Linked DNA regions of Homo sapiens. The protein of the gene in region 1 interacts with the protein of each later gene in a pairwise test. Each region holds a gene or a part of one and is shown on either strand. Other genes may lie near its edges. The genes, in order: MRFAP1L1, MEOX2, SYCE1 and RADIL.

Region 1 (8,637 bases):
TCCTTCCAACCTGCGAAAGGAAGATAAATCTTGGGGTCCTACAATTACTAAGCTAAAAGAAAAGTCAAGTTGGAAACTGCTTAGGGCAAACCTGCCTCACATTCTATTCACAGTCACTTCTCCGCTCACTGAGATAAATGCGTATCTGATTGCCACCTTTGGAGAGGCTAATCAGAGACTCAAAATGTCTGGGCGCGGTGGCTTACGCCTGTAATCCCAGCACTTTGGGAGGCTGAGGTGGGTGGATCATTTGAGATCACGAGTACAAGACCAGCCTGGCCAACATGGTGAAACCCTCTTTTAAAAATACAAAAATTAGCCGGTTGTGGTCGTACACACCTGTAATCCCAGCTACTTGGGAGACTGAGGCAGAAGAATTGCTTGGACCTGGGAGGCGCAGGTTGCAGTGAGCCGAGATCACGCCACTGCTCTCCAGCCTGGGCGACAGGGTGAGACTCCATCTCAAAATAAATAAATAAATAAATAAATAAAATTTTAAAAGAAAGAAAGAAAAAAAGAAACTCAATAGAATGCAACCATTTTTCTCTCATCTACCCAAGACCTGGAAGCCCCCTCCCCGCTTCAAGTTGTCCTGCCTTTGCTTTGAGTTGTCTCACCTTTCCGGACCAATCCATCGTTCATCTTAGATATGTTGATCGATGTCTCATGTCTCCCTAAAATGTATAAAACCAAGCTGTGCTCTGACCACCTTGGACACATGTCATCAGGACCTCCTGAGGCTGTGTCACGGGCACACATCCTCAACCTCGGCAAAATAAACTTTCTAAATGAACTGAGACCTGTCTCAGATATTGGGGGTTCACAAACCACTTGCTCTGGGGAAACCAGCTGCCTTGTTGTGAGCAGCTCCATGGAGAAGCCCATATAGCAAAGAACTGAGACCAACAGCTAGGGAAAAACAGCCTCTTTCCAACAACTACATGAGTAAGTCATCCTGGAAGGGGATGCTCCATCCTCATTCAAACTCAGAAATGACTGCAGCCCCAGCTGATAGGTTGACTGCAACCTCATGTAAGATACTAAACTGAAATGACATAAGATAATGCTATGGTCTGAATATTTGTGTCCTCACATCCAAATTCATATATTTAAATTCTACCCCAGAAGGTGATTGATAGGGTTTGGATGTCCTGCCCAAATCTCATGTTGAAATGTAATCTCCAGTGTTGGAGCTGGAGCCTGGTGGGAGGTGACTGGGTCATGGGGACAGATTTCTCATGAATGGTTTAGCGCCATCCCGTTTGTGCTGTTCCTGTGATGAGTGAGTTCTCGTGAGATCTAGTCATTTAAAGTGTGTGGCACCTCCTGTCACCTCTTGCTCCTGCTTTGGTCATGTGACATGCCTGCTCTCCTTTTGCTTTCCGCCATGATTGTAAGTTTCCTGAGGCCTCCCCACAAACCAAGCAGATGCCAGCACCCTGCTTCCTGTAGAGCCTGCAGAACCCTTAGCCAATTAAGCCTTTTTTCTTCACAAATTACCCGGTCTCAGATATTCCTTTATAGCAATGTGAGAACAGCCTAACACAGTGATGATATCAGGAGATGGGGCCTTTGGGAAGTGATCTGGTCATGGGGTCAGAGCCCTCATGAATGTGACTAGTACCCTTATAAAGGATATAAGGCCAGCTGCAGTGGCTCATGCCTGTAATCCCAACACTTTGGGAGGAAGAGGCAGGAGAATTGTTTGAGGCTAAGAGTTTGAGACCAGCCTGGGCAACATAGCAAGACCCCCGTCTCTAAAAAAAATTTTTTTTAAAGCTGGGTGTGGTGCCATGTGCCTGTAGCCCCAGCTACTCAGGAGGTGGAGGCTGGAGGATCACTTGAGCTCAGGAGTTTGAAACAGTGAGCTATGCTCATTCCACTGCACTTTAGCCTGTGCAAAAGAGCAAGACTTTGTCTACAAGTAAATACACAAAAGATGTATAAGAGGGCCGGGCACGGTGGCTCATGCCTGTAATCCCAGCACTTTGGGAGGCTGTGGCGGGTAGATCACCTGAGGTCAGGAGTTCAAGACCAGCTTGGCCAACATAGTGAAACCCCATCTCTACTAATAATACAAAAATTAGCCAGGCGTGATGACAGGCACCTGTAATCCCAGCTACTCAGGAGGCTGAGGCAGGAGAATCGCTTGAACCCGGGAGGCAGAGGTTTCAGTGAGCAGAGATTGTGTCACTGCACTCCAGCCTGGGCGACAAGAGTGAAACTCAATCTCCAAAAGAAAAAAAAAAAAGGATGCATAAGAGAGACCCCTTGCTCCTTCCATCCTGTGAGGACACAGCAAGAAGGAACGGTTTATGAACCAAAATACTAGCCCTCACCAGACAGAATCTACTAGCACTTTGATCTTGGACTTCCCATCCCCCAGAACTGTGAGAAATAAATTTCTTTTGTAAGCTGCCCACCTTATGGCATTTTGTTAGAGCAGCCTAAATGCACTATGACAGATAATAAATGTTTTAAAGCTGCCAAATTTTGGGTTAACTGGTTATGCAATAATAAACCACTGAAGGAATATGCTACTATTTATTCATTTTATTTATTTATTCTCCTGCTGATGAACATTTGGGTTAACTTTGGGGCTATTATAATAAAGTTGCTGTGAATATTCTCGTATATGTATTTTTATAAACAATTGCACTCAAACTCTCTTGAGTGTATAACAAGGTGTCAGTTTGCTAGAACATAGGATTGGTATATGTTTAATCTTGGTTGATACTGCCAAATAGTTTTCCAAAATTATTGTAACAACTTACATTCCCATTATTATGTGCTGAATATATGTGTCCCCCAATATTTTTTTATGTTGAAGCCCTAACCCCCAGTGTGGCTGTACTTGGAGTAAAGCAGTAAGTAAGGTTAAATAAGGTCATAAAAGTGGGGGCATGATCCTATAGCTTCATGTTCTTATAAGAAGAGACACAAGAGAGCACTCTTTCCTGTACCCCCCAACACTGCATGCACAAAGAAGAGATCATGTGAGGACTGCAGCAGGAAGGTGGTCATCTGCAATTGAGGAAGAGAGCCCTCACCTCCAGAAACCAAATTTGCTGACACCTTAATCGTGGACTTCTGGCCTCCAGAACTGTGAGAAGATAAATGTCTGTTTTTAAGCCAACCAGTCTATAGTATTTTGTTATGGTGTCCAGAGTAGACTAAGACATCCATCAAGAATGTATAAGAGTTCCAGTTGTTCCACATCTTCCCCAACACTTGGTATTGTATTTGAAATTTTAGTCATTCTAGTGGATGTACAGTGCTTCCTCATTGTGGTTTTCATCTGCATTTCCCTGTTGAATCATGACGTTGAACACCTTTTCATATACTTATTAGCCATTTGAATATTCTCTTTTGTTAAGTACCAGCCTACGTCTTTTGCCCATTTAAAAATTTTGTCTTTTCCTTCTTGATCTGTAGGAGTTCTCAATATATTCTGCATATGAGTCCTTTGTCAGTATAACTATTGAAAATATCTTTTTTCACGGTGTCTTGCTCTTTCCCTCTTCATGTTTTTTTGATGAACATCTGCTAGAATGTTGGTGTTTGCAAAACTGTTTCACGCATGTCATCTTACAAATCCCTCTTCCCACTGACAGATATTCAGGCTGGGGCCATTGGTCTTTATCAGACTGGAAAACTGAAGCTCTGATCTGTGGCACTTGTGTTAAGAAGGATGCCCCCTCTACACACACTCATATTACTACTAGTGTGGCACTGGGTGGCTAAGCCTAGCAACAGACTTCCTCCATTCCACAATGGCATTAGGTTAGTGATCAAAATGTACTGACCATCAAAGCCACATTTACTAGGTCCCTGCTGATTTTCAGGTCCTGTGTGTGGAGGGACATAAAGGTGATCAAGACCAGAACCTGTCCCCAAACAGCCTCCAGTCTGGTAGAAGCACTTATGTACTAGAGAAGAATTCCTCTCTCTAAAGCATCCCCTAAGACCCTGCTTGACGCCAGGCTGACAGGAGGGGCGGAGGACAGAACTGAAACAGAAGTAGCCCTTTACCTTGAGGACCTTACAGACTGGCGAAGAGAGACCAAAAACCACCGGCCAGAATCACCCAAGGCAGCGAGAGAATTTCCCCCCAGGACAAAAGTATGAGCCAGGGGTGGGGAGGACAGAAGGACGTGTTCCATTCTAAAACAGTGAGCAGGGACTGTGGACCCACATTGCTCTGGGCTCAAATCACGACTTTTAGCACGGTTTTTACCTCTAGGTTCGTTGTGAGGGCTAAATGAATTCATATAAGTTAATTCAAGCTTGTGCATGCTTAGATAGTAAGCGCTGTGAACGCCAGCCAGTCTTATTCAAATATAGGGAAGGGAGGGTCACTTTTACTTTTAAAAAATAATAAAAGTAAAAGCCCGCTGAAGGGAAGCTTTAGATGAAGACGCGAACAAACCTGCCGCCACCGATCTAAATTAGAGGGCGAGGAGGGGCGCCGGGAAGCAGCTGGTGATGGACGTGCGCGCGCCCGAGGCCCCTTTACGTGCACGCGCCCGCTACCTGGTCTTGCCGAAGGCGTGACCGTAAAGGGGCCCGGCTCTGTCGTGAAAGGGCCGCAAAAAGGCCGAGGGCGAGTTGACGGCTGCGACTCCATTTTGTAGGCCGCTTATTTGTGTGCATCCACGGCGATTCTTCCCGCAGAGTTGTGAAGCGAAAGGCTTACAATTAAAAGGAAGAAAAAAAAATAAAGATAATTCGGGAGTACAATTGACAAAGCGTGTGGGTCGCTCAGCCTCCAGCAGTAACTGCTGATCTCCAGTTCTTGGAGGGTTCCGGTGAGAAGAACGCCCCTACTGCGGTACTGAGGAAGCGGCAGGAGGAGATGCGGCCCCTGGACATAGACGAGGTGGAAGCGCCTGAGGAAGTGGAGGTGCTGGAGCCCGAGGAGGATTTCGAGCAGTTCCTGCTCCCGGTCATCAACGAGATGCGCGAGGACATCGCGTCTCTTATACGCGAGCACGGGCGGGCGTACCTGCGGACCAGGAGCAAGCTGTGGGAGATGGACAATATGCTTATCCAGATCAAAACGCAGGTGGAGGCCTCGGAGGAGAGCGCCCTCAATCACGTGCAGCACCCGAGTGGCGAAGCCGACGAGAGAGTGTCGGAGTTGTGCGAGAAGGCTGAGGAGAAAGCCAAGGAGATTGCGAAGATGGCAGAGATGCTGGTCGAGCTCGTCTGGCGAATAGAGAGAAGCGAGTCTTCTTGAAGGAGGAGATCGGTGGTAAGGTCGGAAACTAGCTGGAGCTTGGATGAAACTCAGTAGTCGCCCTAAGCATGGTTAAACCGCGCCCTGTAAAAAGTTATGTTCTAGGCCTGCATCCCCCATTTTATTGCATCAAAAATTGAGCATTGGGAACAAAGTTGGGGTCAAGAGGAAAGAATGCGTGCTGGTTTTGTTAGGCGTTAGTATACCGTTTTTTTGTGGCCTCTCCCTCCCACGCTGTTAATTAGAGAAAGATAACAGTAACTTCGGTTTTGTTTTTGTGAAACATAAAAGTCAATTCTAATAGGGCAGTCGCCAGAAGTAGACCTGTCTAGGCACTAAGGGAGTTTGGGGAAAGCCAAAGAAGACCTAGGCCATAGAGCACAGTGGAACGCAGGCTGAGAACGCAGGGAAGGAGAAATAAAGAGTAAAGCCAGAGGCCATTACCTGAAATTTCCAGATTGTTCTATGAGACAGGTATGTCAGAGGACCGTGTCTCAAAGAAGTGGCATTCTTCTGGGTGGTTCACATTTATTTTTAACATCAGGATATGGAACTTTGAGAGTCAATGTCTTCATGGTAAATTTCTCCCAATTGTGCTTTAGGTTCACAGCTGAGGACTGTAGTCAACTGGTAAGGATGAACTGACACCTTGAGGAAACTGAAACAGCTTGTCATTTTCTCTGTTTTGTTTTTGTATGTTTTTTACCCCGATGTAACAGTCTCCCTTATGGTCAGTGATTGATGACCTCGATATGGATTTAGATTATCAAATGTGTTTGGTTTTGGAAATATAACTTTTGTCAAAGAAATACTCTCAGAAGAGAAATGGGGCTTAATTAAGTTGTTTTTGTGGTCACGTTTATTCTTGTTACTTCGCTGTGTTTTTGAAATGTTGGGCATGGCCTCGTATTTTGCTGTTACCTTTGTGACCTGATTGTTTTTTGGAACACGTCAAGACGTGGGATCAGAATCTTCCAACTTTAGAGGTGCAATGGAAGACACTACGCTACTTGGTTGAGCCTGGTGAAGAATGTATTAATGAGACTGCTTTGCATAAAACTGGGAAGAAAGAGAAGACAGTTGGAGATGGAAGATGGTTTTGTATATATTTTGGAACTTTAGTTCCTCTGTGAGACGAAAGAGGAGAGCTATGTTTTGTGGCACATTGTCTGATATATATTGTGTAACCTGTCAGGTGAGTTGATTTAGACAACATAGCTGACCTTTTATGACAAGGCAGTTTGAATAGGGACTATTGTAATACCCTCACACATTATAGGGGCATCAGAGAATGGCATGGAAGAGACAGTCTACAGAGAGCTTTAAGAGGCCGGAGAAAGGAAAAGACATTATCAGGGCCTGGAAAGTCTCTTCCAGTTCATCAGGGTAGTAGACCTGTCAGATTGGAGGTCAAAGTCAAAAGTATAATAAGTGTTAATTTGCCTTGAAAAACAAAGACCTAAAAAGCCTTTTTTAAGAAATAAATTTTTTGTTCACATGACCAAAGCCCCTCCTGTGTGTGTTAATAAAAGAATCATAAACAAATTTTTTTGGAATGGATGTTCTTCATTGAGTGTCATCAAATGGGGTTGAACTGCTTGTAGTTAAAGGCTCTTGGTAAGCCTTTAACTGAGGGAGAATTATTTCTGGAAGGTGCTATGGAGATGAGCTGACAGAACACTCAGTTCTGAAGAGAAAAACTTTCGGCCATCCTCTGGGCCAAGCCCCTGCTTTTCAGCAGCGGAAGTGTGTTTAGTTAACCAGTGGGAATGTAACTTGCTTCATATCCTATCCAAGGCACTAGGAACGTAAAGGTGAAGACATGGATGGGGCGAATATGTGGGACAGAAATGGAAACAAGGAATTGTGACATAGAGTGCGTGGATATCTTGTGGGATCCCTGAGGAGGGAGTCAACTCTTCGTAGGGAAGTGTGAATTCAGAGCAGGTGACTTACCTGGACCTGAAAAGTAGAAATGAATGAAGGCATATAAGGGACAGGGATCAAAGTGAGCAAAAGCCTTTCCAGTTCCAGCACTGGGGAGATGGCCATTGAGCTGGATGTTAAGGAGTGTGGAGGGGGTTGTGGGAGACAGAGTGAAATTGGCAGGCAGGGCCAAGAGGTCTTCCTTAAGGTGTTAATTCATCGATTCATAAGCCTGTACTTCAGTGAGATTTCTTCACCCTGGAATGTTTCTTCACAGAGTGCTAATGGATGCTCAGAGCCATAGTGTAGGCATGGTACAATTTCCAGAATTACTAAATCTAATTTCATAAAAATAGATACATGATCATAACAAGCTCAGATACACGTTTTGGATTAATGTGTAAAATAGGCATTTTAAAAATCAAGTACCTGAGCACAGAAAAATTACAGAAGCTGTTTCTGGCTTTGTCATGATATCTAAGATCCTTGCTCATGTGCCTGCCTGTCTGGGTTCTTCAGTAAAAACGAGAAGTATGGCTGGGGAGCCATAATTTCTGATAATCAGGAGAATGACCGTCACATTTGTAGTTTAGGAAGATTACCCAAGACTGGGTATGGATTAATGTGAGTTTGAGTGTGGGCTAGAAGATAGGGGCAGGTGCAGAAGTAGAGATGGGAAGTGAGGGCCTGAACTGGGGCAGAATGAGTGGGAAGGACCAGCTAGGCTTTTCTGGAGCCAAGACTTGGGGTCTTTCTATATCAGTCAACTAGACTAAACTGCTGTAACAGTTCACCCCAAAACCTTAGTGGCTTGCAACACCTGAGGATTTTTTTTTCTTATTCATATTGATGTATTAATACATTGTAGGTGAGTTGTTCCATATTCTCTTAATTCTAGGAGCTGGCTGAAGGAGCAGCTGCTCTTTGGGATATTGTGGATCTTGATTGCGAAAGCTGTTATTTACAAGTTACCTGACGGATTTAAAAACATGCTTTGGGGGTGAAAAATCTGAGTCCTGTACATACACACTCGTAGACACACACACATACTATATATGTGCTACATACATACACGTGTGCATATATACTATGTATATGTATGTTTTTCCCCTCGATTAACTGACCATAGATTATATTCATACATAGGATTGCATTTCATCTCTTCAGTATCCTAGGGTTTTTTTTTTTTTTTTTCCTAAGCCTCCTTCAAATTTACAGCCTAAAGAGTGTTCTGAATCATTTTTGAGCCTTGGCTCTTAGGCAGAGCATTGTAGTGACAGGCTAATTGTCTTAACCCATGCTGTGATGAAAAAATAATTTAGATACATTGAGAGTTTTGTCTCTATTTCCTATTTAACTTACACATTTTCTTTTCATTGAATGATGTGTCAGTGGAATTTTAACAACTTCAAAGTCATCTAGAAAATTTGGATTGGCTTCTGTTAGTAGCTCTGAAAGTCATTGGTCTGTCT
Region 2 (4,325 bases), on another chromosome or scaffold:
GGCTTCAGAAAATAGATTTTTTTAGAAAAAGAAAACACAAAACACTAGTCATAAAAGAAACAATAGATAAATTTAAACATATTAATTAATATTAAGAGTTTCTAATCATCAAAAGACACTCTAAGAAAAGGAAAAAGAAACAGCATACATTGAGAGAAGATAGATAGCAGCAGCCATATAACTGCAGTCTCCAGGGAAGTTCCCATGATATGCTTATCAGGACACAAATGCAAGAATGTCTATAGCAGCATTACATATAGAAAAAAAAGAATTCAAATATCCATGGATGGTAGAACAGAAAAATGGTGCTATATTGACAGAATTTGGAATATTATACAATGATAAAAAATAAATAAATAGAGTCTTTTGAATCAACAAAGATGTGGCAAAAAGCCTACACTTAGGAACATTCCATTGATAAACCTAACAAACAAATAAAATTAAAGAGTATAGTTTTAATATTACTTGTTATGAAAAAAATTTGTTTTCTTTTTTAAGAAAGACTTGGAGGTGACACACAAAATTCAGGCTTGTGGTACTTTTAGGTGGGGTAGACAGAGAAATACAATGTAAAAAGAACACTTTGCTTGCTAGAAGCTATAATTATGAGAAATGCAATGTGAAAGAAACAGATTTCCTCCTAAACAAGATGCAATAATGCCAATTATATTCTAGTTCTGATAATGTATAGACCTTTAATGTCTGTTTGCTGTTTTTTTTGTTTTTAATACATATATGTTATTTAAATATATATATTTATTTAAATGTATTAGGCAAATTCAATGAAGCTTTTAAAAAGAAAATACCTGTACAAAGCTGATGTGAATGATGTAGTATATAATCTTGGTGTTAGCATTTAACAAATGTTGAGAATTTTTTATTGTGACCATATTTTAAAGAAATCACTAGATCAAATATTTGCAAAGTAAAATAAATGAATTAAGGTAGAAAATAAAAAGAAGAGTTCAAAAGAAGATAGGCTCAGTGTGAGGTGGAATGGTCAAATAAAGATTTGTGAAAGCAGCAGTAGTTTCTGATGGCAGAGTATGGCCTTTCAGATGCCGCTTAATCAGTAGCTGCAGGAGCATGTTTTAAATTGGTTCAGGAAATGACAGCTGGATGTCAAATCAAAGAAGAACTTAGGAGTGGGGGGCTTTGACCAACACAAATATTATGTTAGCTCCAATTCACAGAAGCTCTTTATAGACGCAAGTGCTTTGAGTGCCTTAAATGACAAAGTTTTTGTTTAGTTCCATATTTTACATTGTATGCTGTAAAATACAAATATAGTACTTTGTATGCACCTTTTGAAACTTTAAAAATTATTATCATGAACATGTAACCTGATTAAATTCAACGTGGATTTATTTTTCTATTCACTCCTTCATGGTGTCTTTGTATAAGCCTTTGAGGAACTTCTTTTCATTGATGACACTAAGGAGAAAAAAATGTCACTTTAATTATCTCTTTTTTTCTGTTTGTTTGTTCCCTTTCTTGGTTGAAGGTGAAAGTCTGGTTCCAAAACAGGCGGATGAAGTGGAAGAGGGTAAAGGGTGGACAGCAAGGAGCTGCGGCTCGGGAAAAGGAACTGGTGAATGTGAAAAAGGGAACACTTCTCCCATCAGAGCTGTCGGGAATTGGTGCAGCCACCCTCCAGCAAACAGGGGACTCTATAGCAAATGAAGACAGTCACGACAGTGACCACAGCTCAGAGCATGCGCACTTATGATATAAACAGAGGACCAGCTCCATTCTCAGGAAAGAAATGTTGTGATGGCAAGCCTTACCCAAATATCGTTTACACAGAGAGATGACTATGGCAGTGATGTTTAATATTATTAAATCCAGGCATTTCGAATCTGTTTTTCATGATTTATAGAGGGTTTACACAAAGTGCCACTTATTAAAGAGCTTCCACAGTGAAGATGGAGAAGGTGAACTTGCTTTGAATATTCCAGATGTGTTTGGTCGTGCGTATGGCAGTGAGCAGGTATGTGTTTGCTTTTGCTTGCACTGAAAATTAAATTGCTATCAAGAGCAAACTATGAACGGTTTTTTATTCAAGATGTCTCCAGAGTGAAGATGCCGAGGATGAACTTGCATTGAACATTCCAGATGTGTGAGATCATGTGTATTACAGTGGGCAGGTATTTGCTTTTGCTTGCACTGAAAATTAAATTGCTATCAAGAATAAACCATGAAACATTTTATCCTGAACAGCCACAGTGCCTGAATTCACTCAAGTGGATAAAAAGTGTATTTTAACTCTGTATATATTACCCTTAAGTCATTTTCCTGTCTTCACTAATTTAGCAATGCATTCATATTAGCTGATGAAAATAGGCACTCACAATGACAACCAGAGCCAGTTTCTTGTCTTTTTTATACATTTTGTCATCCCAGAGACAATCAGTATGTGCTTACCTGTGTTCAAGTAGAGAAAAATACAGTAGAGTCTGATAGGACATATTCTTGTACCACAGACAAAACAAATCTTATGTTGCATTTACTATCAACTGCTGCTAATACGTTATTATAAAACTTACCTAGCTCCTGAATTCTTCCTATCTTATAGCTTAAAACAATTAGGATCATAGGCAAATCAGTTACCTTGCAGAAAGAGCTTTGTATGACAGACATTGTCTTATTTTATTTCTGTAAAATATTAGCTGTATGAATATGATTTAATTAACAAGAAAACATTTCTTCCTGATTGACAACAGTGTTAGACAAGGTGCAAAGCGAAACTGGTTGCTCAAGTTGATAGAAAACAAAATTCTGAATATCTTCAAATTAAATTCGGTAAAAACACATTATTTTTTCATATGTGATGTATTCATGCAGAACAACTATCTTTGTATTTTGTTTTTAAAATGTGTTTAATAAATGATCCTTTGTAAATAACTTTGGTCTCCCTACATTAATTTTCTTAATTTTTATAGATTTCAATATCAATGATTAACAAAGTCTCAAATCTATCTGCACTTGTGCAAATCCAGATGATTATAATTAGTGGATTATTTACATTTTTTCATTTCTGAATTTTTTTATTATGGCAGGAAAAAAATAAATCCTTGTGTAATCAAAGGGCGCCTAAGAATGGGCATATATTAAGCTATTTCTCTAATTTGAAGAATACAGTGAATGGATTTTTTTGTGTGTTTTATGAAGCCACAGATAAAAGTAGGAAAAAAGTATTAAATAATAGTATTCACCACAGTGAGGAAAATAAAATAGTCATACATTTTTAAAGTTATGTCTGATATATGTAAGTTAATCCAACAGTGGTTTTATAGTCTGAATATGCAGAGTCTCTGATGTGAAATATAAGCTAAAGAAGCTAATCAGAGTCCTCAGTTCTAATGGGACTAATGCAAGAAGTAAAGGATGCTATTAACATAATGTATTTTGCATCATGCATGATTGCACACGCATGGGGTGCCTTAGTCCTACTTATAGCTTTATCACATTGTTTTTCATTTGTTTCATATTCTAAGCAGAAATGCTTGGAAACATTGCCAGCCTTCCTCCCCTGCCTCAATCCGAAACAAATACAGAAAAACAATCAGTAAAAATTTCCAAAAACCCATCAGTTAATTGATTACACTTGCTTTAGAATGATCAGACTGACAAAAATTAATTTGATATATTTTAACTTAATCTAGCGTGATATATAGAGAGTATCCCAGAAATAAATAATTTTTTTGTATCACATTTTCCTTTCATGTAATACATTTTACCTCAGTAGTTGTCAGTATTTTAAAATTAACTGAGAATAGACCATTCGAATTGAGGTCTCCCAGGCATGAAACAGACACTTTTCCATTAATCACCTGAATTAATACAAAGTCTGCTTGTGCTGATGACATCTACTTGGGTGGACTGACTTTCTTACTGTAGAAGAGGATTTAAATTCAAAACATCTTGACAAATTAGTGAAGTGGGAAGATATGAATCAAATTGAGTTCAATAGGGACAAAGTGGAGGATAATTCATTTGGGCAGGAAAATAATTTCCAGAAATAAGAGAAAAGGACCCCTTAGAAGTAGCTAAAAGGAGAGCTAATGGTTGTAGCCAAATAGACGTAAGAATTCCAATGTAGTAAGAAAATGAAATAGGAAAAAGGGATTCCGAATAGATATAACATTCGGGAAATGGGAGGTTTTTGTATCATGGCCATATCTTTATTAGAGAATTGTAAGCAATCCTGAAATGAAATTTGATCCAGAGAACACAAAGTGGTAGGAAAGGCCACATGGCTGACTGAAAAGAGACATCACTTTCTTTATGATGAATTAAAATGATCTGCCTGCCGCATAAGACAC
Region 3 (9,197 bases), on another chromosome or scaffold:
AGCCCAAAATGGATCCCCTGGGTCTATCCCCTTTTCTTTCATATTTGCTGCCTTTTTGCCAGAAACATTTCCTTAAATATACAATTCCATCCTTCTGTTGTTTTTTTTTTTTTTTTTTGCAGTAATTTTTTAATCTCAAAAGTGTCTTTTTTGTCTTATTTCATCTTCACAGTTTCCTGTTCTTATTATATAAATATATCTCCCTAATCTGAGTCTATGGATTGGAGTTTTATCCAATCCATTCATTCCAATGATTGGAATGATTGGAGTCATTCACATTTCTCAATCCATTTATTTTCCGTTTCTTTGCCTGGTCTTTCTTTTATGTGATGCAGCTCTCCTTGAATGTCTGATACATTTTCATCCTTTAAAATGAAGCCGATGGGTGACAGGAAGACGTGCTTCCATGAAAGGCAGTGTTTCACTCCGGAACCTCAGCTCCCGCACGCTGGATCCAGATCCACAGCATCCCCAGGACCTCTTCTCCCCTCTGGGTCCTGCCCCCATCTCACTGGCTCCCATCTCAGATTCCCTGTGAGGCTCCACGCTTGGCTTCACATGCAAAGTCTAGGGGTGAGGGGCCCCTCCCAGCCTCTCAGCTGGCAGTCCTGGGCCTGTGCTGGGAAACATGCCCTCCCCGCCCGCAGCCGGAGGAGCCGCATGGCTGTCTTGAGTGGAGGTCACACATCCCCTCCCAGGGCCAGGGGAGGGAACGGTCACAGATGTTCCTCATGAGCCAAAAATAAGCAAGGTCTGGCTGCGGTGCTGTCCACTGCCGGCTCCAGCACCAGGGGTTGCCCAAGAACCCCCTTGACTCCTTGGGGTAAGCAGCTCACTGCTGGCTGTCCTGTGTGTGATGGGGAAGGGGGACTCAACCCGAGTGTGCAGACCTATGATGACCCCCGCTCCCACCTCCACGTCCCATGGCCACGGCCCCTCCCTTCCAAGCTCCTTCTGCCTGATGGGCAGCACCCCCTCCCGTCTGGAGTCTGCCGGGGCCCTTCCTGCTCTCCTTGTTAATTTATTTTCTGTCTTGGAGGGAAGCTGGGTGCACCTGCTCAGGTGGCCCCCTAGGGCCAGAAGACCTGTCAGTCACTTTCAAATACATGTTCTTTCCAGCTCTTCCTTGCCAAAGGTTCTAAAAACACTGTTGTCCGTCTCACCCAAAAAGCTAAGCTTCTGTCCAATCCTTAACGGTAGCTATAAATGAGAAGCATAAGCTTGGTTTCCTTCTAACATCCGGCAAGTTAGAAGATAAAACGTATTTCTTCACTTATTCATCACATATTTGCAGGGCACCCCTACACGGGACAGCAGAGGTCCCAGGCCGGTGCTGCACCCGGAGCCAGGCTCGGAGCTGGCCGCGCGCCCTCAGCTGAAACTCACCGGAGGCGCGGCCGCCCTGGGCTGAGAAGACGCCGTCGGCCCAGGTGGCATCAGAACCCACAGGAGGAAGACAGCCAGCCCAGAAGGAGCCATGGGGGGCCTCTGGGGATCGCAAGGGTCGACCCCATCCTCCCTGAAACAAGGCCGGAGGTTGAGGAGGTCTCCGCCCGGCCCCGCAGCTGACAACCGGTGGAGAAACCGCACCTGCCACGGGAGGGGCCGCGGGGTGGGCTCGAGCCACCATGGGGCTGGTACAAGCACCCTCTCCGCTCAGGACCTCGGCCCTCATCCCAGGGCACCAGGGCTCACAGGGGGATGGGCCCGGGTGGGGACGAGGGTGTGGAGGGGCAGGAAGCACGGCGGGTGGAGCGGAGCCGGGTGCGGGGGTCGCGGGGGACCGCGGGGACGGGGCCTTGTGATGCAGGAGACGGAGGGGGCTGGTGACGGAGGACGGGAGGCCGCAAGGATGGGGGACGCGACATCCTTTTCCCCTCCCACCGGCTCACCAGGGATGCGCCTCCGCGACTGCCCGCCCCAATCCCAGGGCGGAGGCCTCGCGCAAAACCCAGGCGCCGCGGCTCCGCGCTCCGGCTGAGGGTCCGCGCCGCCGCCCGCCCGCTCCTTCCCGCTCGGCCGCGGCCTCAGGGACGGATACTCCAGCGCGCGGTTCCAACCGAGGCCCGTGGCGGGTAAGGCCGGGAGGCTGGGGCGGGTACGGGGCCGGGAGCGAGGGGCGGCGCGGGGAGGGGATGCAGCTGTCGCCCGCACAGCCGTGTCTGGACGCGGCCCCGCAACTCGACCCCGTCCCGCCCCCAGCCAGCTGCTGAACTAGGCGGCCGGGGACGGCATTGAGCGCTGGGCGCGCGCGGGAGGGACTGTCCCTGGGGCACGGGTCTGCTGGGGCGGAGTCCGCACGGTGTCAGCAGCCGCTTGTCCTCCGCAGCATCCGCAAGGCCCGCACCCAGGCTTTGGCCCCAAAGGTGGGGACCAGGCCCAGGCACGGCCCGTCCCCGTTCCAGACCCTGATCTGAGCCAGCTCTTGGTCCCGGCTACCGCGTCCTCCAAACACAACGCCCCTCCCCCCATGCCGCCTCCCCCCGCCCCCCACATCCCAGCAACGCGTGCAGAGCTCCCTCCCCCAGGCTTGCTCCCCCGCCCGGGCCTGGACGCCCCCAGAGGCCTGAACGCTCCTGCCCCGCTTCTACACCCCCAATCCAGGTGCACAACCTTCAGGTGCAGAACCCTCCTGCCCCTCCTGCCCCACCTGCCACTTCCCAGCGCCTCCCCCAGGCCTAAGTCCCTGATGCTAGAGGTTAAACCGCGCCCCCCCAGGCCTCAGTGGGCCTCCAAGATGCTGGGGGCACCCTGATCCCACAAAAGATGGGGGTCCCTCTGCTCTCCAGCCTTGAGCCCTCCGCCTCTGGGCACCCGATCTCCATGGAAACTAAGGGCCCTTTCCCTCTCTTCCCGCAGGTTTAGCCCCATGAAGATGAACTGGGCACCCGCGAATGGCTGGGCTCTGCTACAGGAGGCAGCCTTCCTCTGCGTGCGGCCGCGGAGGGCTCCGCGGGGGCTCGAGAGGGGCCTCGAGGGTGTGTGTGAGGCCGGCGCTGTGCTATGGTGCCCCGGGCTCCTCCCTGCGCGTGGCTGCGGCCGGGGCGGCGGGCTCAGGCTGGAGAAGGGCCGCGGGACCCGGGGAACGCGGCCTGGAGGACGAGGAGGACTGGGTTCCCGGAGGCAACAGGACCGGCTCGGCATCTACAGCTACTGTACGTGGACTTCGGGCGCTGGACCCACGGGCGGCCTGTGCCTCTGTGTCGGGCTGGGTGGCGCCCTCAGTGCCCTGGGGCTGCTGCGGCCCTAGGCCTGGCTGGGCTCGGTGACCACATCTGGCCCCCGGGCCGCACCGTCCCCCAGGATCCTCCGGCCTGGGCTCCCCCTTCCTCCCTTGCCCACAGTCTTGGAGCCCCAGTGGGTGCAGGAGCTGCTGGCTGCCCCTGTGGACCCGCCATCCACCGTCCTGCCCATGCTGCCTCGCCATCCACCTGCCTGCCCACGCCGCCTCAGCCTCCCACCTCCCACCTAGAGGAGACCATGGGCCCTGCCCCACCTGCTCCAGGATGTTAGGGTCCCCTCAGCCAAAAAGGCAGTGGCCTGTGGCTCCTGTACCAACAGCCCAGCCACACTCCAGAGCCGCCCAAAGGGAGGTGCCAAGGCCAGGAACCCAAGCCACCCCAGCTCCCCATGCCTGCCCAGGGGCCGTGGTAACCCATGGACAGGGAGGTGACCTCAGGCTGGTTCTGCCACTGAGGCCCTGAGGAATCAGGCCCTCCCCAAAAGAAGTAATGAAATGGACCAAAGGACTTAAGAATTTGGGGGGAAGTAAGGGGAAAACGTTAGGTGCTAACCACCTGCCCAGAAGAGTGGATCTCACAGCCCAGGAACATTCCCAAGCAGGAAAACCATCCGTCCAGGAACCCTAACCCTAAAACTAAGCACAACCCCTACCCCTAACCCCTGACCCTAACGCTGACCCTTAACCATAACCCTTAACCCTAACCACTAACGCAAAACACTAACCCTTAACCCTAACCCCTAACACCTAACCCCCACCTCAAGCACTAAACCCTAAGCCTAAACCTTAACCCTAACTGCTAACACTAACCCATAACCCTAAGCCCTAGCCCCAACCCTAAACTTGACCCTGAACCCAAGCCTCCAACCCAACCCCGACACAAACCCCTAACCCTAACCCCTAATTCTAGCCCTAATCCCTAAATCCAACACCAACCCTTGACCGGACCCCTGACCCCTAACCCTAACCTCAACTCATAACCTCAACCCCTACTCCTACACCTAACCCCTACCCTAATGCTAGCCATAAACCTAACACCCAAACCCAAACTCGAACCTATGCCTACCCCTAAAACCCTAGCCCGAACCGTAACCACAAATCCTAACACACAACGCTACCCCTAAACCTACCACTACCCCACCCCAAACCCTGACACCGAACCCTGAAGCTAACCCTAACAACACTAAGCCTAACCTGCAACCCTTAACCCAACTGTAACTCCTAATGCTAACCCTAACCCTAACCCTAACAACACTAAGCCTAACCCCTAACCCTTAACCCAACTGTAACTCCTAATGCTAACCCTAACCCTTAACTCTAACCCCTTACCCTAAACTGTAACCCCTAACCCTAATCCCAACCCCAACACGTAACCCTAACCCCTATCCCCTACCCTAAAACCCTAACCCTTACAAACCTTAGCCAAATCCCAAACCCTAACCCCCACCCCTGACCCTAATCCCCTAGCCCCCAAACCCTAACCCCAATACCCTAACCCCAACACTAAAACCCTGACCCTAACCGTAAAACCCTACCCCTACCCCGACCCTAGCCCAACCCTAACCCTACCCCAATCCTTCCCCTACCCCTAACACTAACCCCAAACCCTAATTCTAACCCCACTCCTAACCCCAAAACTAACTTCTAACCCCTAAACCCTAACCCCAACCCCAACTCTAACCTTAATCCCTAGCTCTAATCTGTAGCCCTAACCCTAAACCCTAAGGTAACCTTTTATAGGTTAGGATTCGAGGCTTCGTATTTAGGACAGGCAGGTGTTCTGATGTCTCCCACTCACCTGCACGGTAAAGTTCTTCCCCTGGCTCTTCACAACCAGTCGCGATGCATCGCGGCCTCCCCTGGCCGGTGAAGGGCTGGGTTCTCCCGAAAGCCTCTGCTCCTCCTCCCTCCTCCCAGGGCCCTCCGGGCCTCCACGGTGGCCCCAGCGCGGCAGGGACCGTGCAGAAGGGACCGTGGGCTTGTGGCCGGCCTCGGCCACTGTGGGCATGGAGCTCACGGGAACGCGGCCTAGGGGCAGGCTACGCTCCTCTGCGCGCGCAGGAACAGCGGGCCCAGCGGGGGCTGCCGCAGATTTCACTCGCTGGGGCCCGTGCACTCCCGCGGCGGTGTGGTCCCGCAGAGCCGCAACCTCATGAGGCTGCCAGGGCCACAGCGCCTTGTGGAGTCGTCATCCGTCAGACACGCACACTTCACAGGAAGCTTCGGCGCTACACATGCGTACTGCTCGTTGGTGGGGAGGGCCTCCAGAACCAGGGCCGGTCCCCTCGGAAGCCAGCGCACATGCGCGGGGGCACCCGGCAGCGGGCCAATCGCAAGCCTGGACGGCCGCACGTGGCCCTGGCGGGCTTCCCGCCGCGTTTGTAGCCCTCGCGCCTTTACGCATGCGCACTAGTGCCACGCAGGCCTGCCGGAGAATTACCTCACATCTCCAGGCGCGCGCAGGAGTGCATTGCGCAGGCGCGCTGCCTGGAGTCCTGCCCCCAGCGGCGGTTGCTCCAATCACCACTGGAGGCTCCCTCCCGAGGCACCCTCGCTGGCGAGCTGAGAGGAAATGGCGGGGAGGTCCCTGACATCGAAGGCCGAGCCCACCGCAGGAGCCGTGGACAGGGCTGAGAAGGCCGGAGGTAGTGGTGGGAGGCAGGGAACTGTGCGTGAGGGTCTGACCTCGCCGAGGCGGGGCAGGGTTGGGGCGCGGGTGGCGGCTGCTTCTTCCTGTCAGTCCTGATGCTGCTGATTGAGACTTAGCGGGTTTCTTCAGAAAAATTTCGGCCAAGATGAGGGAGTGCTTGCCCGCACACCCCCCACTTTGTCTTAAAGCATTGAACTGTTATCATAGTTGCTCCAATTTTGGTTTAGGTAATTAGTCAAAAGACATCCCTTCCCGTTGTCCCACAGACTTTACATACACACCTCTTAAAACAAAAAGGATATTTTCCTGACGCTCCCAATCCCAAGGGAATTCCTAATTCCACCTTCCTCTCCCTAGAACCAGCAAGTGTCCAGATTTCCCAGTCGCACTAAACTGGTTCTTGACAGTGGGGCCCCCCACCCAGCATCCCGACGCCCCGGGGAGCCGGGGGAGGCCGACTCCACGCAGATCCCCCGTTTGTTTCTCCCTGACCCCGACCTGCCATAGTGGCTCCTACCTCACCCTGGGAAGGGAGGGGACAGGCAGCTGGTCAGAGTTGTACAGAAGTCCAGAAATTGCAGCCCAACAAAGAGAAAGGACACTGTCCTGGCCGTTTCCACTTCAGGACACTGTGTGCCTCTGGGTGTTCTGTGAGGATTTTCAAACTTACAGAAAAGTGGAGAGAATTGTACGGTGACGTCCCTCCTGCTGTCACTCAGCTTGTCATTCTGTCCTGAGATCATCTGTCCCCCTTGAGTTAAAACTCTGCAATTAACAAACGTCGGTGGCTGCCTCCAGCCCTACCTGCGTGAATGCCATGGCAGGTGCTCTGTCATGTTCTTACAAAATGAAGGTTTGAATACTGAAACAAGCTTAGCACAGAAAGCATCCCTACAGTGAGATGTGGCACAGTGAAAGCCCCAGCGAAGGACAAAGCAAGTAAACAGGACAGACGCAAACGTATCCCTTTCATTAAGCACCTGCTGGCCCGCCGGTGTGCTAGCCTTTCAGTATCATGGCTCCATGTTCCTCACATAACCTAGTATATTTAGGTAAGTTTTAACCAATGTCGCTTGTGCCTTAGTTCAAACTGCTACAACAGAAATGCCTTATTTCTCACAGTTTTCGAGGCTAGAAGTTCAAGATCAAGGTGCAATTCAGCGTCTGGTGGGGGCCTGCTTCCTGGCTATAGACTTCTGTCTTCTCATTGTGTCCTCATGTTGGGGAAGTTGCTGCAGACCTCTCTGGTCTTATAAGGGCACTAATCCCATTGCTGAGGGCCCTACTCTCATGACCTAATCACCTCCCAAAGGCCCCACCTCCTAATGCAGTCACACTAGGGGGTTAGGATTTCAACATACGAACTATGGATGGGGGCACAAACATTCTATAGTGACCAGCTACAGAAGAAATTTAAAGGACAAGATTCCAGTTTTAGTCTATCTGTTTTAAAAAGGAAGCAGGGATGTTATCTAGGGTCAGTGACACTAGATACATTTTAGTAAAAAGTCTATTAGTCTTCACCTAACTGGCTGCAGTTATTACTAGAAAGGGGAATGACTGGGGAAAGGGAATGTTGGTGTTTCAATTTTTTCTTCATACTTTTTCACACATGCCAATTACTTGAATAATTTAAAACTTAATGCAAAAATTTATGAGCAGTAATTTGTGTAAGATTTCAGGTGGGACCAAAATGAGGGGACTCCATAAACTCAAAAATAAGCATTTCACAAAATTTTATGCTTGATTTTTTTTTTTTTTTGAGACGAGATTGTGCTTTGTTGCCCAGGCTGGAGTGCAGTGGTACAATCACTGCTCACTGCAGCCTTGACCTCCTGGCCTCAAGAGATTCTCCCACCTCAGCCTCTTGAGTAGCTGGAATCACAGGTACATGTCACCATGCCCAGATAATTTTTTTAAATTTTTTATTTGTAGAGAGAGGGTCTTGCTGCATTGCTCAGGCTGCTCTTGAACTCCTATGCTTGAGCAGTCCTCCTGCCTCAGTCTCCCAAAAGTGCTGGGATTATGGATGTGAACCACTGAGCCTGGCCTTATGCATGTATGCATGATTTTTAATGGCTGTAAATGATTTCATCCTGTGTATGTGCTATAATTTATTTAACAAATCCCCTAAGGCATATTTAGGCTTCTTCGAGTTTTTCACTATTATAAACAATACAGTGATGAACACCTTGCCCATTAGCCATATCCAGAATTACTTAGGACATAGTCTTAGAAAATAAGATGCACCCAAACTTTTGATATTTACTATCAGAAAGTTTGTAAGGAGACACCTTAATTTTGCATATCTGGTTGACAAAGATAAACACGTTTGGAAACATAGGTGATTGGTAAAAATGAAAAACTGGGCATCTTGTATACATCAGTGTAAGGTAATTTGGTATTGTCAATCAAAACTGTTACAAACTTTGGTCAGGTGCCTCTGAGCCTTCTCAACCGTGCCTCGGCCTTGGCCTTGGCCTGTGATATGGTTTGGATCTGTGTCCTCACCCAAATATGTTGAATTGTAATCCCCAATGTTGGAGTTGGGGCCTGGTGGGAGGTGGTTGGATCACAGGAGACCAATTTTATTTAGATAGTGACTACCTATCTTTTAACTGGATCTCTGAGCTCTGGGAAGAGGCCACACTGAATCCTGGGTCTGCAAAAAGGGAGAATTATTATGAGGCTCGACCACATGGATGCTTTTACAGTGTACTTAAAAAACATTAAAAAAATATTTCTAAGTGTCTAAAATATACTCTTCCTTAAAAATGCAGGAGTAGCTTCTGTTGCAATAATTAATAAACAAAAAAATCAGGTAACACAATACAAAAGCAAACAGTTTAGGAGCTGACATGAACTTGTGTGTTTACACTCTTGGGGATACACAAGGAAAAACAATTTTCTCCACAAAAGGGAGTCTGGTGCCTTCTCCATTTTCTTTAAGGAACCTCAGGCTATTATAAACTATTTTAGGTCCCTCATGCAGCAGAGCGTTCAAGGGAAAGGAGAGACAGCAGAACTATATGAAGAAAATAGCATTCAGTCAACTGAAAAGAAAAAAAACTTTTGCCCAAAAAACACAAGGTCCTAGGAGAGAGAAAAAAGAAAAATCATGAAGCCCTTTTAAATACACACACACACACACACACACACACACACACACACACACACACACACACACACATTGGATGTTAGCTTTTAATTAAGATGACTTTTAACCATTTGAGTTTCTTTTTAAAAAATTTTTAAGATCTCATCAACATATTTCAGCTAGGACAAATATCTGCTATTTCAGAAGTA
Region 4 (9,254 bases), on another chromosome or scaffold:
ATCTGGCTAATTTTAAAATTTTTAGTACAGACAGGGTTTCACTGTGTTGGCCAGGCTGATCTCGAACTCCTGATCTCAAGTGGTCCTCCTGCCTTGGCCTCCCAAAGTGCTGGGATTACAGGCATGAGCCACAAGCACTGCTATTTATAGGTGTGGAGGGCCTGAAGAATGGAATCCAAGGATTAAATCACTTGTTCTGCCACACCCCTCTAGGGATACCAGATGTAACAGTCTGGGAAGGAAAGGTTGGGATCTAATGCTCCCTGTGCACCTCCTAAAGCCTGCCTCCTCTCTCCTCTGGGCCCCGAAAAAGCCCAGTCTCTGCCCCTGGACGGCCATCCCTTGGGCACCGGAACTTTGGACCTTAACCAGATCCCTTTCCCCTGGGCTCAGGTCCTTTCCTGGAGTCAGTTGCCGGATTCTGTCACTCTCTGGTGGCCAAGCAGGAGAGCTCAACACTCTATTTTTGGCCAGTGGATTTCCAAAGATACTTAACCCGACAGTTCAAAAACTGCCCAGGAGCCAGATGCTGGGATACGGAGATGAATACAGCTTTGGACTTTCCCTGGAGGGAGGGGGTGAGAGTGGATGGAAATCTATTCCTTCATCTACTCATTTAACAAATATTTATTGAGCACTGGCTAGTTGCCAAGTATAATAGTAAACAAGACACATGAAGCCCTTGCTTTCCAAAAACACAAATTCTAGTGTGTGTTAAATACATAAGCAAATACATTGACATGGTGATAAACTCTATGAATTAAATAAAACAGGTGGTCAGGTGTGGTGGCTCACACCTGTAATCCCAGTACTTCAGGAGCCGAGATGGGAGGATCGCTTGAGGCCAGGAGTTTGAGACCAGTCTGGGCAACATAGGGAGACCCCATCTCTACAAAAAATAAAAATAAAAAAATTAGCCAGGCATGTAGTCCCAGCTACTCAGGAGGCTGAGTTGGGAGGATCACTTGAGCCTGGAAAGTCAAGGCTTCAGTGAGCTATGATTGCACTATTGCACTACAGCCTGGGCAACAGAGCAAGACCCTATCTCTCTGTCTCATGCTCTCTCTCTCTCTCTATATATATATATATATAAATTATATATTTATAAATATATATAAATTAAATCTCTCTATATTATATATATGTATAATATATATATGTATAATAAAATCGAGAATGACTCGGGGGTGATGGTCAAGAGGTGGTCAGAAGACAGGAAGGGAGATGAGTTTCTGCGCTGGGAAGGGGCCCAGCATGAAAACACAGAGGGAAGGCTGTGGGGTCAAGGAGACCAAAGAGGAAAGGTCTCGGAGAAGGGAGATGACCTCAGAGTGCTTGAGGAAAGAAGTTCTGAGGGCTGGAGATCCAAGGCCAAGGAAGAGAGCAGTTGGAGCTGGGTTTTGCAAACCTACTTTATTCTAAGTGCAAAAGGAAAAGTTATGAGAGGGTTATAGGTGGAGGAGTAATAACATCTGGTTTAGGTTTAAGGAACATAGTGTGATTGATGTGGACTTGCTTAATAAAAAGGTAACAAAAATAAAAGACTGTGGGCGCACACAAGAGGACATGTAACCAGGTCTAGGAGACAGGAAGATCTTTCTGGATAAGGGGTATTAGTTATCCATTGCTACGTAACAAACTGCTGCCAAAACTTAGTAGCTGAGGTCAATAATAAACATTTATCAGCTGGATGTGGTGGCTCATGCCTGTAATCCCAGCACTTTGGGAGGCTGAGGTGGGTGGGTCACTTGAGGTCAGGAGTTCGAGACCAGCTTAGCTAACATGGGGAAACCCCATTTCTGCTAAAAATACAAAATTAGGTGGGGGTGGTGGCAGGTGCCTGTATTCCCAGCTACTCGGGAGGCTGAGGCAGGAGAATCACTTGAATCCGGGAGGTGGATGTTGCAGTGAGCTGAAATTGCACCACTGCACTCCAGCCTAGGCAACAGAGCAAGCCTCCATCTAAAAAAAAAAAAATTATCATCTCATAGTCTTTGAGGGTTGGGAATTTGGGAGTAGCTTTGCTGCAGGGAGGAGGGAGCTTTTTTGGCTCAGGGTCCTTCAATGGACTCCAGCTGGGATGTCTGTCACCTAAAGTCTCCTGGGGCTGGAGGACTCACATCCACCATGGCTCACTGACCTCAGAACTACTGATCTAAGAGAGAGCAAGGGCAGAAGCCACGTCTTTTATGATTGTGTTCCAGAAGTCACAGTGTCATTTTGGCAGTATCTTACTGATTACACAAGTCTGCCCTATTCAACATGGGCCTATACAGGAGCATGAAAACCAAGAGGTGGGAATCACTGGGGCCATCTTGGAGGTTGGCTACTACCAAAGAAACGCCTTATCTGAGTCTCAAAGGATGAGTAGAAATTAGCGGCCGGGTGTGGTGGCTCATGCCTATAATCCTAGCACTTTGGGAGGCTGAGGCAGGCAGATTGCAAGGTCAGGAGTTCGAGACCAGCCTGGTCAACATGGTGAAGCCCCATCTCTACTAAAATTACAAAAATTAGTCAGGCGTGGTGGCAGGTGCCTATAATCCCAGCTACTCAGGAGGCTGAAGCAGGAGAATCGCTTGAACCTGGGAGGCAGAGATTGCAGTGAGCCAAGATTGCCTCACCGCACTCCAGCCTGGGCGACAGAGCAAGGTTCCATCTAAAAAAAAAATATATATATATATATATACACACACACATTTGAAAAAAAAGAAGTTAGCCAGGTAATGAAGTTTGCTGTTATGGTCTGAATTTTGTCCCCCTAAAATTCACGTGTTTGTTGAAGCCCCGACCCCTCACACCTCAGAATGTGACTATATTTGGAGACAGGGCCTTTAAAGAGGTGATTAAGATAAAATGAGGCTGTTAGGATGGGCCCTAGTCTAATCTGACTAGTGTCCTTATAAAAAGAGGAGATTGAACACACAAAGAGACAGGTGAGAGGTGCACACCCAGAAGAAAGGCCATGTGGGGGCACAGCCAGAAGGTGGCCGTCTGCAAACCAAGGATAGAGGCCCTCAAAGAAGCCAAACCTGCTGACAACTTCACCTTGGACTTCCAGCCTCCAGAGCTGCCAGATAAAACATTTCCGTTTTTCGAGCCACCTGATCTGGCATTTTTTAATAGCAGCTCAGCTAATCTAATACAGTTGGAAAAGGTGTTTGAAGGTCAAGGGACCGGCCTGAGGGAAGATCTCGAGGCATGAAACAGCATATTCATACCAAAAAGTCAGCATTTCTAGATCAAGAAGCAATCTGAAAAGTTTCTCTATAAAGGGCCAGGTCATATTTTAGATATTTGGGGCTGTAAAATCCTGGTTGCAGGAAAGCAGTCGTAGATAATATCTAAACAAATGAGGGTAGCTGTGTTTGAATAAAACTTTATTTACAAAAACAGAAGGCAGCCCAGATCTGGCCCATGGGTTGTAGTTATCCGACCCCTGTGGAAGAAGGATGTGGGGACTGTGGGAGATGGGCCAGGAGCAGGGTGAGGAATATCTCAGGAGGAAAACCCAGGCCTGAACCCAGGCTCTCCTTCAGCTCTGACCATTGTCTCTTCATGCGCACCTGAATGAAATATTCAAGCACGTCATTCCTTTCAAGCATCCCTTCCTGGGGTAGGCGAGGAGGTTGGTGTGTATACAGAGGGTCCTGTATTCCTGGCTCAGTTCTTGTCTCTACCTCCAGCAGCCTGACCTCTCTGCGTCTCTATTTTCTCATCTGAAAAATGGGAGTATTACTGAACAAAAGGGTTCTGCGCTTGCTCTGCTAGAAGCCAATCTTGATCAGGTGCAGAGGTTCATGCCTGTAATTCCAGCACTTTGGGAGACTGAGGTGGGTGGATCACCTGATGTTAGGATTTCAAAACCAGCCTGGTCAACATGGCAAAACCCCGTCTCTACTAAAAATACAAAAATTAGGTGGGCGTGGTGGTAGGTGCCTGTTAACCTTAGCTACTCGGGAGGCTGAGGCAGGAGAATCGCTTGAACCTGGGAGGTGGTGGTTGCAGTGAGCTGAGATCACACCACTGCACTCCAGCTAGGGCAATAGAATAAGACTCTGTCTCCAAAAAAAAAAAAAAAAAAAAAAAAAAAAAAAGCCAATCTTACTGCATTAAGTTTTTGAGACAAAAGCTTTTTTTGTCCGTATTGTGAGTTGATCAATAAGGAGACAGGAGCCTGGCTCAAATCTGTCTCTCTGTGTTGACTTTGAGGCACTATTTTTTATTAGAAAAGGTTTAGGAGGTGGACTTTAGGATTAGCAGGTGATAGGTGGAGGAAAGGGGAGGCCTGGAATGTCTCAGACATCTCTGTCTCACAAGAATTGATGTGAGCATTAAGTGAGGTGACCTAGGTAAAGTTGCCTAGGGCCTGGCACACAGGTGGTCAATAAATGTCTGTTCCCACACTCATCAATGTCTGCTCCGACCTCCATCGCGAATATGGGGTCATGACTACGGAAATCATACCACGATAGCTGTCCACAAAAAGGTTCACTCCCGAGGCCCACATTCTGCATATTGATATTCCGAACCACCTGAATCTCCCAGGTCTAGCCCACATTCCTCAAAGGGAAAACCCCAGCCAAAGTGCCGAGGTCACGAGCTGCTTTTTAAACAAGTCCCCAGGGAGAGCAGTTGGGGCCAGAGCCCCAGAGCTGACCTGGTCATTTTTTTGCATAATTGTAAGCAGGAATGCCATGACCTGATTTGTCTTTTAAAACTCTGGGTGGGAGACAGATGGTAGGGGAGAGGAAATTCCTCCCTTGTTCCTTTTCGATGTCTTAGAAGATGTTTATTAATTGGGGGCACAGCTCTACCCTCCCCTACACCCACTCACTGGGCTACTAGAAGGTGCTGTCTCGAAATAGCCCACCCAACCGCAGGAGCCCAGAGCCCACAAGCAGCTCAGGGACTTAGAACTGGTCCCACCCTTCCTCCGGGGACCCCCCCTCCTTAAGCTGCAGTCTGTGGGTGGGCTGCAAGTCCCGCCTCTCCACAACCAGCCCCACCCCTTTCTTCAAAACCCCGCCTCTCCGGTGAGGCCCCGCCCCCTCGAGGCTGCATCCCCGTCCATTGGGCGGCCGGCAGGAGGCGCCAGAGCACAGCCCGCCTTTTCTAGCAGGTTGGCCCCGCCCCTCTCCTGGAGACCCCGCCTCCTCGAGGCTTTCTTTCTGCCTATTGGGCGCCGAGGCCCAGCTCCAGCCCACCTGTTCTCCCCCGCCCCACCCTTTGTGGCCCCGTCCCCTTGAGGCCCCGCCCCGCCCGTTGCGCCGCCGGCAGGAGGCGCCGCGGCACGCGCGGGTCTGGGCGCCGGCCCCAGCCAACGGCGGGTGGGAGCAGCGCGGGAACGTGGCGGCGCGGCGGGTTGTGCCGGAGGTGAGTGTGGGGTGCGCGAGGAGTGACTGCGGAACCGGGGGTGGCTCGTAAGGGGCGCTGCTCGGCCGCTGCCGGGGACCTGGGGCGCGGAGGCCGCGGGGCGCGCTCGGGGACACTCCCGGCCGCTGGTCGGGGCGCGGAGGGCAGGTTTGCCCAGTTGCCATGGGAACCGACTGGCTGTCGGGCCCCGGCCTGGACCGGGGGGCGGTACCCGGAGGCCGGCTAGCGCGGGCAAGGGCGGCCCAGCCTGCGGGGATCCGGGGGTCCGCGCTGCCGACCCCCGAGAGCTCCTGAGCCTGGCTGTCCGCGTGGGCCCCGGACCCCCAACTCCAGGGGACTCTCGGCCCTCAGTTTTCCCGGCTGTGCCCTGGAGGGGGAGCTTCGTCCGGGGCGCGCAGCGGGGGAGCGGGGCGCAGCGGGGGAGCGGGGCGCAGGGTTCCGCGCGCTCTCCCACCTGGGCCGGCGAGACGTCCCCTGCACATACCCCGTCCCGGTTGCAGCCCGATCCCCACTCGTGCGCCAGCTCAAAGCATTGTTTCCCGGCTATTTATGTACCATTTCCAGCCCCTCGACAAATACTGCATCCAAGATAACAGATGCTGAGCCGAGCTCCTGGGGCCTCGCAGGAGGAGCCTGTTGGTGGGGTTGGCAGGGCCCTGGCGGGGCTGCGGACCATCCTGCCCTGCCCTGTCGCCTGTCAAGTGTTTGGCTAATCTGAATTGCACAGAAGAATCTGATTGCTCGTGTCCCGCGGTTAATATAGGCCACCTCTTGTGCATTCCAGACAGGAACCAGTCTTGAAAGTCCCTTTTGCTGGGGGGCAAGTCGGTCTCCTCTCCAGCAGCTAGCAGGTCAGAATTAAATCTGATTGAATTATGTTTGCATTTGAAAGCGTGGCTCGGGCTGGGGCTGTAAAGATAGGATTCATGGAAGGAGGGGAGAGAGCTGAGTGTGTAAAGTCTGCGCTTCGTTTTCCCTCCTGCTGGAAATGATAATGGGTTCCACATTGTCCTGTTGGAGCAGAGAGGTCGCTCCACCCATGTCGTCAGCGCAGCACTGACCTCACTCCCTGTACTCGCCGCTGGGACTTGAGCTTGTTTTTCATCAGAAACTGGACCCTTCCTTGAGAACAAGAGAAAACATTCTCTAAGAGCAGCACCAGCCAGCGCCCCACACCCTCGCTGTCCGAGCCCTGCGCTTTCCCCAAGTATTTGTGTCACAGAGGAGCGAATGGGGCAGAAGAGGCCGGTCGCACTTCCAGAAAAACAGATCTTGTTACCCAGGGCGTGCTCCGCCCGGTCGGATTTTCCTGCACTCCCCTTGGCCTTTTAAAAAACGAGTCCATCCCATTCTCACAAACAGGCCAGGCTCCGCCTTCTGGGATTCGGAAGCGGGCAGCGTGTGAACAAGTGGGCACCCTCTGGTCTGGCCAAGGGAGGATGACCAAACGGAGAGAAATGCTTTCTGAAAATCCCAAAACAGATAAGGTTTGTGTAACAGGGACTTCTGGGGGCTTAAGAAGGAGTTATTGGAAAGGAGTCAATCATATTCTCTCTGCTTACATTTTCTCCTGTTTCATGATACTGCTAACTCTGCCTCTGCCTTCGAATCCGGCTCCGGAAACTGTGGGAAAAGCAGGGGTGGGGGGAAGTGGGGGGAACAACATTTCTGAAGTTCAAGCTTCTAAGACCCTGGGAGGAGACCTAGCAGTTGTGTGTTTGTAATTTTCTATTTGTTTTTTATTAAAGAAGAATTATGTAAATGTCAGACCTTACAAAACATATATCCACCCCTGGGCCCCAAATATCAACTCACTTTTCCATTGTATTTGGGGGCCTTTTTATAATTTTTGTCTTTTTTTTTTTTTTTGAGACGGAGTCTCACTCTGTTGCCCAGGCTGGAGTGCAGTGGCGTGATCTCGGCTTGCTGCAACCTCTGCCTCTGGGGTTCAAGCGATTCTCCTGCCTCAGCCTGCCAAGTAGCTGGGGTTACAGGCACCCGCCACCATGCCCAGCTAATTTTTGTATTTTTAGTGGAGACAGGGTTTCACCATGTTGGCCAGGCTGGTCTTGAACTCCTGACCTCAAGTGATCTGCCCGCCTCGGCCTCCCAAAGAGCTGGGATTACAGGCATGAACCACCATGCCCAGCCAATTTTTGTCTTTTTTTTTTTTTTTTTTTTGAGAGGGAGTCTCACTCTGTCGCCCAGGCTGGAGTGCAGTGGCATGATCTTGGCTCACTGCAAGCTCCGCCTCCCGGGTTCACGCCATTCTCCTGCCTCAGCCTCCCGAGTAGCTGGGACTACAGGTGCCCACCACCACGCCTGGCTAATTTTTTGTATTTTTAGTAGAAAAAGGGTTTCATAGTGTTAGCCAGGATGGTCTCGATCTGCTGACCTCGTGATCTGCCCGCCTCAGCCTCCCAAAGTGCTGGGATTACAAGCGTGAGCCACCGTGCCCAGCCATCTTTTTTTTTTTTTTTTTTTTTTTTTTTTTAACAGAGAGGGTCTCACTCCATTGCCCAGGCTGGAGTGACGTGGCGCAATCATAGCTCACTGTAGCCTGGAACTCCTGGGCTCCGGTGATCCTCCTGCCTCAGCCTCCCGAGTAGCTGGGACTACAGGTGCACACCATGCCCAGCTAATTTTTTATTTTTATTTTCTGTAGAGATTGGGATCTTGTTATGTTGCCCAGGCTAGTCTTGAACTCCTGGCCTTAAGCCATTCTCCTGCCTTGGCCTTTTAAATACTTGGCTCTGCTTCATGACTTTTCTGTGATATGGGCTTTCTCCTGCCTGGAGGGGGCTTCCCCAGTTTTTGGTATCGTATTTATATCAGCATTCAGACTTCATCTCCGGAGGCAGAGGTTTCCTGAGCCACAGCTGCCTGGTGGCAGAGGCTGTACCATCCACCACCTGCACTTTGCCTTTGCACCCTGGGGAACCCGTTGGAAATGAGCACTATGAAAAGGTGGTGGCCGACCCTCTGCCAGTGTGTGCTGCCTGGAGGCTTCTAAGCCTGGGGCATCTGGAGAGGTGCTTTGGAGCAGGGTTGTGCAGCTCTCATGGATGGTTAATAAGTGCCGGCTGGAGAGGCTCTTTGAGGGGTTTTGTTCTGTGATTCCAAGTACTCACTTTGAAAACTGACCACAGGAGACTGAGGTCAGACTAGAGGGCGATTGGAAGCCGCTGGTGTGGTGTGCACAGGCCAGGCCGCACGTTTGTGATGTGAGCACTGTCTGAAAATGCTTTTGTTGTAAATGAAACCGAGGCCTTTGATGAGTCCGTGGGGGAAGCTGCGGCCGGCTCTGAGCTTCTTAGGATTTGACAAGGCCACTCGTTGCACCTTCCTCAGAGGAAGAGAAACAAAGGCTTTGCTCCTTTACTCCTTTATGGCCTGGCTCGATGGAACCTCAAGGCTCCATCTGCTTATGACCTGTACTGGGAACTCCGTGACCTGTTACAGCAAATTCACCTCTTCAGAAAGCCAGGCACAGCGAAAGCCTTTGCCGTGGTGAAGTGTCCGCAGTGGGCTATAGGAACAGGAGAAGGGCCAGCCACCCACCCCGCAGGGCAGACGTCCGCGTTGGGAACCCAGTCTCTGGTGTGCGAAGCTGTCGGAAGTATTTCTGAAGAGTTCAAGGTCCTCGGAGAAAGCACAGCTGCTGGCTGACCTGGGCTGGTTCTGGAGGAAGCGAGTGGTGGTCTGATTTCAGGACTCACCCATGACAGCTCTGGCGGGCAGTGAGAGGCTCCAGAGAAGATGACCCACGCCCCGGTGATATTAGAAAGAGGCCAGTTCGCAGTGTCAGCTTTGGAGGCTGGGGCGGTTCCACTGTTTAGTTTCCTAAGGGACAGTGTGGCTCCTTTTCTTTGGAGGGGTTC

What was found.
Region 2: the proteins of MRFAP1L1 (region 1) and MEOX2 interact in binary tests that used the Homo sapiens proteins (3 or more experiments, as listed by UniProt).
Region 3: the proteins of MRFAP1L1 (region 1) and SYCE1 interact in binary tests that used the Homo sapiens proteins (3 or more experiments, as listed by UniProt).
Region 4: the proteins of MRFAP1L1 (region 1) and RADIL interact in binary tests that used the Homo sapiens proteins (3 or more experiments, as listed by UniProt).

What each region holds. Positions count from the first base shown.
Region 1 is NC_000004.12:6,705,848-6,714,484, reverse strand, and holds MRFAP1L1 (MORF4 family-associated protein 1-like 1), read left to right. Parts: upstream 1-4,619; 5' UTR 4,620-4,855; coding exon 4,856-5,239; 3' UTR 5,240-5,254; intron 5,255-5,841; 3' UTR 5,842-6,784; downstream 6,785-8,637.
Region 2 is NC_000007.14:15,609,791-15,614,115, reverse strand, and holds the end of MEOX2 (homeobox protein MOX-2), read left to right. Parts: intron 1-1,504; coding exon 1,505-1,729; 3' UTR 1,730-2,904; downstream 2,905-4,325. UniProt on the Homo sapiens protein: Mesodermal transcription factor that plays a key role in somitogenesis and somitogenesis and limb muscle differentiation. Required during limb development for normal appendicular muscle formation and for the normal regulation of myogenic genes.
Region 3 is NC_000010.11:133,562,146-133,571,342, reverse strand, and holds the start of SYCE1 (synaptonemal complex central element protein 1), read left to right. Parts: upstream 1-5,759; 5' UTR 5,760-5,813; coding exon 5,814-5,886; intron 5,887-9,197. UniProt on the Homo sapiens protein: Major component of the transverse central element of synaptonemal complexes (SCS), formed between homologous chromosomes during meiotic prophase. Requires SYCP1 in order to be incorporated into the central element.
Region 4 is NC_000007.14:4,879,715-4,888,968, reverse strand, and holds the start of RADIL (ras-associating and dilute domain-containing protein), read left to right. Parts: upstream 1-5,252; 5' UTR 5,253-5,373; intron 5,374-9,254. UniProt on the Homo sapiens protein: Downstream effector of Rap required for cell adhesion and migration of neural crest precursors during development.